Linked DNA regions of Homo sapiens. The protein of the gene in region 2 binds, or shares a complex with, the protein of the main gene of each other region. Each region holds a gene or a part of one and is shown on either strand. Other genes may lie near its edges. A codon is read from its position in the direction of its gene.

Region 1 (3,848 bases), on a different chromosome or scaffold from region 2:
TCCTATTGGGAAGTATATAATATTGATATATTTTAAAGAAAATATTAGGATATAACAGAAAGGTTCCCGGTGGCTCAAGCTTTAAGAAATAAACAGTCACATGTGACTTTCACACAATATCTCCTGTGGAATGCCATTTTGAGTCTCACATATCTGTCAAGAAGCTCAAGTCATTTTTTATTTACCAAGAATGCATTATCACTTGTTATTCTGGGAGGTCTCAGAATATATAAGCATTTGGCCTTCACATAATTTTGTTACCCATAGATTGATTGATTCACTTATTCCTTCATTAATTCAGCAACTATGTGCTGAAACTATTCCAGAATTTGGACCTATGCAGTTAGTAAGACAGAAAGAAAAATGCTTAACCTCGACAAGAGTATATTCTAGTTAAAGCAACAGCCAAGAAACAAAGCAAATGATATAGTATATAGTTTAGTAGATAGTGATAATTGCTAATTAGAAGAAAGTAAATAGGGAAAGGTAGATGTACGTTATTTATAAATCCTTTTGAGAAAGACATCATAAATGCCTTTATCCAATTAACTACAACAAGTTAATACTTCCATATGTAAGATTTTATAGGCAAGCTGAGCAATAAAACCAAAGCAGGTAGGGCTTTAACTCTAAGGAATATACAGCTCATCAACAATGTATTTCTTTGTATTTCCTTTCTCTGTTTACATTTATTCCTTTGAATCATATTTGGTATTCTATTTGGGAGTATAATCCTCAACTGGTTGAAGATCTAAATACATGTTATAAACACAAAAGAAGATTAGAATATCAGCTATTTTGTGTACAATTTTACCTGTGTCCTATAAGTTTTTTTTAAGTTCTCAGACAAGTCAAATTGGTACAATTTCAAACATCAAATGTAATCCATTAATACTAATATAGACATGTAATCCAACATTTTTTGTCCAACGTCTTATCATGAAGCTTTGTCTATCATACCAAGAGCTGTGGAGGGATTCTGACCATTGTGTTTATTTATGTTTACAATAGGAGTACATCAAAGCCAGGACTCATTTAATTCGTTGGGTCGGATTATCTCGCCAGAAGTCGAATGAGGTCTGGAAGTGGGAGGATGGCTCGGTTATCTCAGAAAATATGTAAGTCACTGGACACTTAGAATAGGAGGGAGTACTGGAAACTCTTATTCTTGAGATTCCCTCTTCTCTCAGTCCAAGTCACTACTATGGGTTATAGAAGCAGCAGCTGGGTCACTTACCTGCTAATTCAAACAAGACAGCGCTGGTCATAAGACAATTCTTTCCCCTCTCTCCCATTACTTTGCTCTTTATCTAAGCCACAATCCACCTTTATCTCTGATATTATTCCCATTCATTTTTACATTCAACCTTACCATGGAACACTGTGTGCATGTATGTGTATGTGTGAGTGTGTGTGTGTGTGTGCGCGCATGCACATGTGTGTGTGTTTTTGTGTTTTGCTTGTTCTGATTATCTTCACATATTTTTAAAACAAAATTTCATATCATTATTTTACAGTTGAAAGTTGTTATCTTGAGAGTCCTTTTGAGTTTTCAATATTGTTTTGCCTATTCCTCTATTCTGGGAGTCTCCAAGAATTCGATACATTGTATTTCACAAGATAATTCCAATGTCCATTAACGAAGCTTTGTCCTTCTACAAACAATCCAGGCAAAGGGACTGATTGCATTGAGTGGAGTTGCTTCCTATATGGCTTTCCAATCTGCAGTCTCAACATCTTTTGTTCATCCTGTATATCAAAACTGCAGTCTCTCTTCAATTAAAATTTAAACTGATAACCAAAACTTATATAATCTGATTATTACTCAAATTATGAATTAAATTTTTAAACAAATATTTATTAAGTATTTACTATAGATAGGATCTTAGGATACTACAACTACAAGCAAGCCTCTTCACAGACCTTGGGCTTTATCTCCTATCTCCTATTGCTTGCTGCCTCATTTACAATATTGCAGGCAACTTAGTGTTCTTTACATTCTTCCAACAAATCAAACTCGTTTTGTTACCTTAAGGCTTTTGTCTTGCTATTTTCTTCTAGAATGCTCTGCCTCCACAACTCCATGACCATCTCTCCACTGAGACTCAAGTCTCTATTTAAACATCACTTCTTCAGTGAACCTAACTCTACCCAAACTAAATTAGCCTCCCTTAAACCCATATCCATACAGTCCACCACTGTTTTGTTTCTTTGTAACTCTTACCACTGTCTCAATTTTTCTTGTCTATTTTTTGTGGGCTTCTTACCGGTATCGCCCCACTTAAATGAAAGTTCCCCAACAAGAAAGACATTAGCTTTCTTGTCTTTCTTTATCAGTGTATCCTCAGCACATAGAACAACTTTGTCACATAGTTCTGCAGGTATTCTCCAAATAAACCAATAAGTATATATTCCTTGTCATCTCATTATAAGCAGTTTAGAAAGAAAGAAATATAACTTAACAGACAATTACAATACAGCCTGCTGTGTTAGATGATTTATCTTGCAACATAAATCCTGATTTCAAAACTACTGAATCAACTCACTTTTCCATGAGCGTATTCCCATCTAGTGCAGCTACTTGTCCTGTAGGGCTCTTCCATCTCCTGTCAGTTCATCTGAGTCCTGACCTTCCATCAATACCGAACTAAAGTCTGATCTTGTAGATAATGCGTTTTCCCATTATTTTGGAGCCATCTCCATCACTTCTTCAGGGCTCCTATTGTACCTACTGTTCCCTTGCTCCTAATTTTATGCTAAATGAAATTGATATTGGGCTTTTTAAATATGCATATCTTGTACTGCCAAGCAGGGTGGAACTTTCTCAACAATGAGAATCGTTTTTTTTTTTGTTTTTTTTTCCTATTTTCCTCAGTCTCTATTTGGTGCATCAAACTACTATACGCAGAGTCTGATTACTGATTGTTTGCTCAGTTTTCAAAGGAATTTATTCTAACTTTCCCTTCACAGGTTTGAGTTTTTGGAAGATGGAAAAGGAAATATGAATTGTGCTTATTTTCATAATGGGAAAATGCACCCTACCTTCTGTGAGAACAAACATTATTTAATGTGTGAGAGGAAGGCTGGCATGACCAAGGTGGACCAACTACCTTAATGCAAAGAGGTGGACAGGATAACACAGATAAGGGCTTTATTGTACAATAAAAGATATGTATGAATGCATCAGTAGCTGAAAATTGCTTATTTCTCCCTTTCTTCTCACTGGAGTTATTTTTAATATTATCTTTCCTATCAGAATTACCTAGTCCCTTCTTTGAATATACAGAAGCCATCACGTGAGTTTATCATTTGCTTCCCAATTGTTCTATTTTCCTTTAATTTTCTTTCTTCTTGTCCTTCATTTCTAATTACCTGAACATGGTATGATTTACTGCATCTTCAGATATACACATATAACATCAAAATCAGGCCAATATAGGTTAGGGCTTAATTAATATAAGTTGTGCAAAATATCTATGTTTGAAATCTGTCCAAAATATCTAAGTTTGAAAGGCGGTGTAAGATAGTAAAAAGAATATTAAACTTAGAATCAGCAAAATAATTTAGATGTCAATTAACTAAATTACAATCATGAACAAGTTTCATAACCTCTTTAACTTCCCTTTTCTCATATTTAAAATAGGAATAATAACAACCATCTTTTATATCTCACAGTTCTACAACCTAAAATAGAACTTTAGAGTGTTAACTGTACCAGAAACTCCATGAAAGCGAACACTATGACTTCCCCATTCACTATTCTCTTACCAGCACCAACCCGAAACCCTGGCTCACAAAACAGAGAGATATTTGTTTCTCTTTGTATAAGATAGTTCATGAGAAAAATA
Region 2 (7,301 bases):
GACCTTGTTAAAGAAACACTAATTCTGACACTTGTTGAAATTGTACGGAAGACTTTAGTCAAGACCCCTGTAATAAGGGGCATTGCAGTAGGGAGGAGAGCTCAGGTTCACCTCTGGGTGAAAGGAAAAGTGGGGATTTGTAGCCCACAAGCAGAATGAGGGGATCAGTGGGTGGAAAATTCCTAAGAGATGGGGTTGGGGGGACTCTTGCTAAACTGGCCTAACAAGATTCTTTGTGAAGGCAGGCTAAGGGCCTAGCCACCACAGCGCTGTTGTGAAATAAAGTCAGCTGGGAGACGCCATGTAAACCCTACATTGTGAGTAGCAAATGTGAGAGGGTGTTAGGACAATGAGGTGTCTTCCACGTTAAGTGGAATTTACAATGCTGCGTCAGTGCCAGATCTTGAACGACCCCAAATGCACCTGTTTGAATACTTACTTTTCCTCCTTGCCCTAAACACTGAGTTTTATTCTAGCTACTCCCTGGTCACTGATTTAACTCAGCAGCTGTCAGCTGATGTGAGGAGGAAGAGGGAGCTTACAGTGAAGAGAGCACGGATTTAGAAACAGCTTCTGGAGACTCTGCAGACAGAGGGCCCATGTGGAGTGGGGATAGTTGGCAGTGTCCAGGCCACTTAAGCTGGGCCTTGTGCTAAGTTTCTCCTGTAACTGTGACATAGTATTTGTTTGTTTTGGGACCATGTCTTGCTCTGTCACCCAGGCTGCAGTGCAGTGGCACAATCTTGGCTCCCTGCAACGTCTGCCTCCTGGGTTCAAACGATTCTCCTGCCTCAGCCTCCTGAGTAGCTGGGACTGCAGGCATGTGCTATCCTGCCTACTTAATTTTTGTATTTTTAGTAGGGACAGCATTTTGCCATGTTGGTCAGGATGGTCTCAAACTCCTGGCCTCAGGTGATCTGCCTGCCTTGGCCTACCAAAGTGCTGGGATTACAGGCCTGAGCCACTGCACCCAGCCATGACATAGTATTGGAAAGAAAAGATTTGTCTCAATGACAGCTGGTTTTGAAGCAGTGGGGAAAAGAGGATTTATCAGGGTGATTGGCTAATCTTTTGGGGGGAAATTATATTTCTCTTTTATTATAATACTTCAAAATAAACAGACAAAAATATTAAACGTAAGTACAATACCATAAGGAAAACATAGGTGAATATTTATGTGATCTTGAGGAAGAGTTTGTGAGTGTGATGTCAAAGAGAAAACAAGTTTAAGAAGTTTGACTACTGATAGCTTGGTCATTTGCAAAAGAAAGATGTAGGCCGGGTGCGGTGGCTCATGCCTTTGGGTGGCTCATGCCTTTGGGTGGCTCATGCCTTTGGGTGGCTCATGCCTTTGGGTGGCTCATGCCTTTGGGTGGCTCAGCACTTTGGGTGGCTCAGCACTTCGGGAGGCCGAGGCGGGTGGATCACAAGGTCAGGAGATTGAGACCATCCTGGCTAACATGGTGAAACCCTGTCTCTACTAAAAAATACAAAAAAATTAGCCGGGTGTGGTGGTGGGCACCTGTAGTCCCAGCTACTTGGGAGGCTGAGGCAGGAGAATGGCGTGAGCCCAGGAGGCAGAGCTTGCCGTGAGCCGAGATCGTGCCACTGTACTCCAGCCTGGGCGACAGAGCAAGACTCCGTCTCAAAAAAAAAAAATGCCAGCAGCATTTAGGCCAAAGAATACATTCTTAAGGTATGAACAGTGCTTATAAGAGGGAATGCCATGTGACCATTACAAAAACGGTCACAAAAGAAGACAAATGGATGAAACAACTCGCTCCACAAATCAAAGAAGTGTAAATAAAACCAGAAGACTGAAATCACTTATTTAAAAGATTTTTATTAAGAATTTGGACTATTACAATAACAGCCTGATTGAATGTTACATCTAAACTCAAAAGTACTTCTTTTTTTTGTCTCCCAGGCTGGAGTGCAATGGTTCAGTCTCGGCTCACTGCAATCTCTGCCTCCTGGGTTCAAGTGATTCTCCCGCCTCAGCCTCCCCAGTAGCTGGGATTACAGGTGTGCACCACCATGCCTGGCTAATTTTTTTTTTTGTATTTTCAGTAGAGACGGGGTCTCACCATGTTGGCCAGGCTGATCTTGAACTCCTGACTCAGGTGATCCACCCGTCTCAGCCTCCGAAAGTGCTGGGATTACAGGCGTGAGCCACCGTGCCTGGCCAACTCTAAAGTATTTTTAAAGAAATGGCAGGCTGGGCACAGTGGCTCATGCCTGTGATCCCAGCACTTTGCAAGGCTGAGGTGGGAGGACTGCTTGAACCCAGGAGTTTAAGAGCAGCCTGGGCAATGTAGTGAGACCTTGTCTCTACAAATATATATATATATATAAAAATAAAATGAGATGTCATCTCTATAAATACAAAGGAGAGAGAGAGAAAAAAACAGAGAGAGATAGAAAGAAAGAAATTCTGTTTAAAAAAGAAATGCCCACTTTGGGAGGCCAAGGCAGGCGGATCACCTGAGGTCAGGAGTTCGAGACTAGCCTGGCCAACATGGTGAAATGCCATCTCTACTAAAAATATAAAAATTAGCTGGGCGTGGTGGTGCACACCTGTAATCCCAGCTACTTGGGAGGCTGAGACAGGAGAATCGCTTGAACCCAGGAGGCGGAGGTTGTAGTGAGCCGAAATTGTACCATTGCACTCCAGCCTGGGTGACAAGAGTGAAACTCCATCTCAAAGAAAAGACAAAAGAAATGCCATCCTGTAATGTGTGCAATCTAGCGAGTTATTAGACATGAATGCAAAGATAAAAGTTATTCATAGTTAGTGATTTCATATAAATAAGCATTGCTTACGTTTATTTGTTCTCAAAAATTAAGAACCCCAAGTGACAGTTGATTTATCAAATCATCTTCTCCTAGGAAATAGAAACTTCAGCCTAGCTTTTTTTTTTTTTTTAAGACAGAGTCTCACTTTGCCACTCAGGCTGGAGTGCAGTGGCATGATCTCAGCTCCCTGCAACCTCCGCCCCCCGAGTTCAAGTGATTCTCCTGCCTCAGCCTCCCGAGTAGTTGGGGTTACAGGCACCTGCCACTGTGCCAGGCTAATTTTTGTATTTTTAGTAGAGACGGGGTTTCACCATCTTGGCCAGGCTGGTCTTGAACTCCTGACCTCGTGATCCACCCACCTCCACCTCCCAAAGTGCTGGGATTATAGGTGTGAGCCACCGCGCCCAGCCCTGCCTAGCTTTTTTAAAATAATCACAACAACAACAAATTTCAAAGTAAGTGGATCGTTTGCTGCCGCATTTGGAAACTTCCACTGAGCCGTGTTTGGCTGAGGCTGGGTGTGGCAGGAAAGGGTGTTTATGTGAGCACGCTGGTACACCACTCCAGAACTGAACCTGCAAGCTAGGTTGTGGGTATTGGTTTATGATGGCAAATTCGTCACTCTACACTTGTAGAAACAATTGTGTGTCTGCACATATGTGCATCCCTGTATGTGTGTGTGTATGCGTGTGTGCGTGCATATGTATGCCTGTGCATACATATGTCTTGGGGAAAAGAGGATTGGAAAGTGAAGGCATCCATGATTTGAATTTCAGGAGGAAGGGGAAAAGACATGAGATGCTGGCTGGAAACTCGGCAGCTGGCCTAGTAGGAACTCTTCACCCAGGGAATCCTTCAGCCAAGATACTAAGAGGGACAATTGGGGATCTCTTGTTAAAGTTCAGCTTTCCCATGGAGCAAAAAGAATGCTAGGGCGGTGAGACAAAAGACATGCATCTTAATCCTGACTATCATTCATAAAACGCCTTTTGTCCATTCAGAGCGATTTTAGTACTTGGCTCTGTGGGCCAAGGGTAGAAAAGAACAAGAAGGAATTTTTATAAAGTTACGCTTTCAATGAACTGAGCTTTCTATGAAAGAATTCAATCTAATTTCATTGAGCACTTGATTTTTTTTTTTTAAAGCAAGGATTGTTTTAAGTTAGATACACCAAATAAGTAAGTGATTGTACTAAACCGCTCCAGAAAACGTTTTTAAAATTGATGATTTGTTAACTAAGTTCAAACCAGGTGAGGAAGAAATAAAATGGGAAGCTTAGTAAGTTTTTTAATAAGGACTACTTGTCTGGCAAAGGGATATTTCCCATTGAGCTCAATAAATACACAGTAAGCGTTTGCCTACACCACAAGTCATACATTTTTGTAGGAGCCAATCACCAACCCTCACCTCTACCCCTACTCCAGCAAAAGGCCACATGGAGAGGCAAACCATTTGCATGCATGGAAATATTCGGTTATTGCTAACTGGTAAACCCCTCGCTGTACACCCCCAGATTAAAAAAATGTGTAGGTAGCTCATCCAAAGCCATCTCTACTGGATTAGGACTCTAGAATAAAAGAGCAGGCTCATAGAACAAGTGAACTAACTTCAGAGGCTTCCTCTAGGCATCAAAGAAGCTATAATCAAATATTTATTAGCTGTGCCTCTGGCTGGGCTGTCTAAGCAGTGGGGAGAATAAGGTATCTTAAGGCAAGGAATGGATTGCTGATATAAGTGCTGTCTAAGCAGTGGGGAGAATAAGGTATCTTAAGGCAAGGAATGGATTGCTAATGTAAGTGCTGCCTAGAGACAAACAAACATCTGCTCTTTCATTACACAAAGAAATTTCCAAGCACCTCCCTCCCCCTCGCTCCTGGGATGTGTATGCTTGTTTATTTTGCAACTGTATTTAGTCATGGAATTTCCAGAACCACTGGAGTTTAGGGAAGAAGCCCATGGCCAGTGAGTCACATTTTTAATGCACAAAGAGGGTTGTTTGGTGATTTTTGGAGATGATAATTGAGCATGGTCATGACTAGTTTGGGTCACTGCAACAGAAGTTGAAGAAGAGGATACTGCTGTTATCTGCTCTATCTCTCATTGTAGAATTCAGCCTGGTAGTCCACTCCAATTCCCTGCTCCAGCAGAAACCTTTTTTTTTCTTTGAGACGGAGTCCTGCTCTGTCACCAGGTTGGAGTGCAGTGGTGTGATCTTGGCTCACTGCAACCCCCACCTCCCATGTTCAAGCGATTCTCCTGCCTCAGCCTCCCAAGTAGCTGGGACTACAGGCATGCAACCCCATGCCCAGCTAATTTTTGTATTTTTAGTAGAGATGGGATTTCACCACGTTGGCCAGGATGGTCTCGATCTCTTGACCTTCTGATCCGCCCGCCTTGGCCTCCTAAAGTGCTGGGGTTACAGGCGTGAGCCACCACACCTGGCCCAGAAACCTTTCTCATTGGCATGACACATCATTTGTCCAAATGTTAATGCGGAAAAGCCAGGGCCAAGGGCAGTTCATTAGTTTGGCTCTTTTTTTTTTGGAGATTGGGTTTCGGCTGGAGTGCAGTGATGCGATCTCAGCTTACTGTAACCCCTGCTTCCTGGATTCAAGCAATTTTCCTGCCTCAGCCTCCTGAGTAGCTAGGATTATAGGTGCCCACCACCACACCAGGCTAATTTTTGTATTTTTAGTAGAGACAGAGTTTCACCGTGTTGGCCAGGCTGGTCTCAAATTCCTGACCTCAAATTCCTGACCTCAAATGATCCACCCACCTTGGCCTCTCAAAGTGTTGGGATTACAGGCGTGAACCACTGCACCCAGCTAGTTTGGCTCTTGGTGTACTAAGTGTTCTGTTGGTGTCTTGGCATCCCTAAGCATATTACTGACCCTCCCCTGTAGACAGTAATCTCAACTGTAAAGTAAGAGGTAAAACTCCATGTAATCTACGAGGTCTGTGGTCAGAGCCTGTGGTTCTAATTGTCCAAGTGAACAGCAGTCTTAAAATTAAATGGAGAGAGAGTTTGCTTTTAAAAAGATGGAAGTTGGGTGTGGTGGTGAGCACTTGTAGTCCCCGCTACTTTGGAGACTGAGACGGGAGGATCGCTTGAGCCCAGGAGTTTGAGGTTATAGTGAGCTATGATTGTGCCTCTGTACTCTAGCCTCAGCAACAGAGGGAGAGCCTGTCTCTTAAGAAAAATTAATTTGAAAAGGTAGAGAAAAAAATAAAAAAATAAAAAGATGGAGACCCCGCTTTTGCATCGGGTCTGCAAAGGGGTGTGTTTAGAAATCTTTCCTGTTGACTCTAATTTAGAGTTTTTAGGTCCAGATGAATATATTAATTCATCATATGAAATGACACCAGGAAGAATCTGGTTCCTTATTGAAAAGGAAAGATGTACGTCCCCTGTCCAGGCCACCTCGATGGGGCCCCAGGGAGGGGCTGGCTGCTCTACCTTTTAATGTTTTCATTTTCCTTTGCTTTGCAACGGAGATAACCAGGGTGTTGATGTGTCAGAAGTGCTGCAAGGAGAATGGTTTGGTTTCTGGCACCACAGTAAGCCACAAAAAGGACCAAAAATAAAACAAAAATTTCCAAAAGAAATGGAAAAGAAAATAATCCGAATGTAGCCGACAAGTTGGGTCTGCTTATGCAATTTCCACCTTAAGCTCTGACTCAATCTTTCTTCTTCAGCCAGCACAGGCCAGCCAGAAGATGACACTGAGACTACAGGTTTGGAAGGCGGCGTTGCCATGCCAGGTGCCGAAGATGATGTGGTGACTCCAGGAACCAGCGAAGACCGCTATAAGTCTGGCTTGACAACTCTGGTCAGTGTCCTGGGAAGAGAGGAATTTTTTCCGTAGGCATGTGATCACATGCAAGGCTATGATGTATATTAATTTACTTTATATAAAAATATATCTATCTATAAAATCAGCATGAGCCACCATACCAAGGAATAGTTACGTGGCTCAACAAAGAAGAATAAGTCCTCACTTAATGTTGTTGATAGGTTCTTGGAAACTGTGACTTGAAGCAAAATGACTTAGAAAGAACCAACATTATGTGAGGACCTGCTGCATGTCATTTTCCTTAAAGTCGCAGTTTCCAAGAATCTATCAACAACGTTAAGTGAGGAGTTACTGTCTTTCCCAATTTCGTCCACTTAGCTGGTGTGCTGATCACAGGTGGTTGGAGAGTAGAAGCCAGAGCTTCTCAAATTGGTAAAAGGAGCCAGGATTTTACATTTCCAATCTGTTACAGCCCAACTTTCAATACAATGAAAGTTTTCTTGGGTGTTGTGGCAATGTCATTGCTATAAAGGGTTCTAAATATATCTTCTCAGCCGGGCGTGGTGGCTCACACCTGTAATCCCAGCACTTTGGGAGGCTGAGGCAGGTGGATCACCTGAGGTCAGGAGTTCGAGATCAGCCTGACCAAGATGATGAAACCTTGTCTCTATTAAAAATACAAAAATTAGCTGGGCGTGGCTGTGTGCACCT

Evidence for each region.
Region 1: the proteins of PDPN (region 2) and CLEC1B are in contact, whole or in part, in a crystal structure (PDB 3WSR), measured with the Homo sapiens proteins. Residues at the interface, in NP_006465.4 of Homo sapiens: Ala46 (codon at 6,561), Glu47 (codon at 6,564), Asp48 (codon at 6,567), Asp49 (codon at 6,570), Val50 (codon at 6,573); in NP_001380271.1 of Homo sapiens: Arg107, Phe116, Arg118, Arg152, Thr153, His154, Leu155, Arg157.

The regions. Positions count from the first base shown.
Region 1 is NC_000012.12:9,992,410-9,996,257, reverse strand, and holds the end of CLEC1B (C-type lectin domain family 1 member B), read left to right. Parts: intron 1-967; exon of another isoform or gene 968-1,011; coding exon 1,012-1,118; exon of another isoform or gene 1,119-1,233; coding exon of another isoform or gene 1,234-1,240; intron 1,241-2,970; coding exon 2,971-3,115; 3' UTR 3,116-3,183; downstream 3,184-3,848. UniProt on the Homo sapiens protein: C-type lectin-like receptor that functions as a platelet receptor for the lymphatic endothelial marker, PDPN.
Region 2 is NC_000001.11:13,600,681-13,607,981, forward strand, and holds part of PDPN (podoplanin isoform a precursor), read left to right. Parts: intron 1-6,492; coding exon 6,493-6,626; intron 6,627-7,301. UniProt on the Homo sapiens protein: Mediates effects on cell migration and adhesion through its different partners.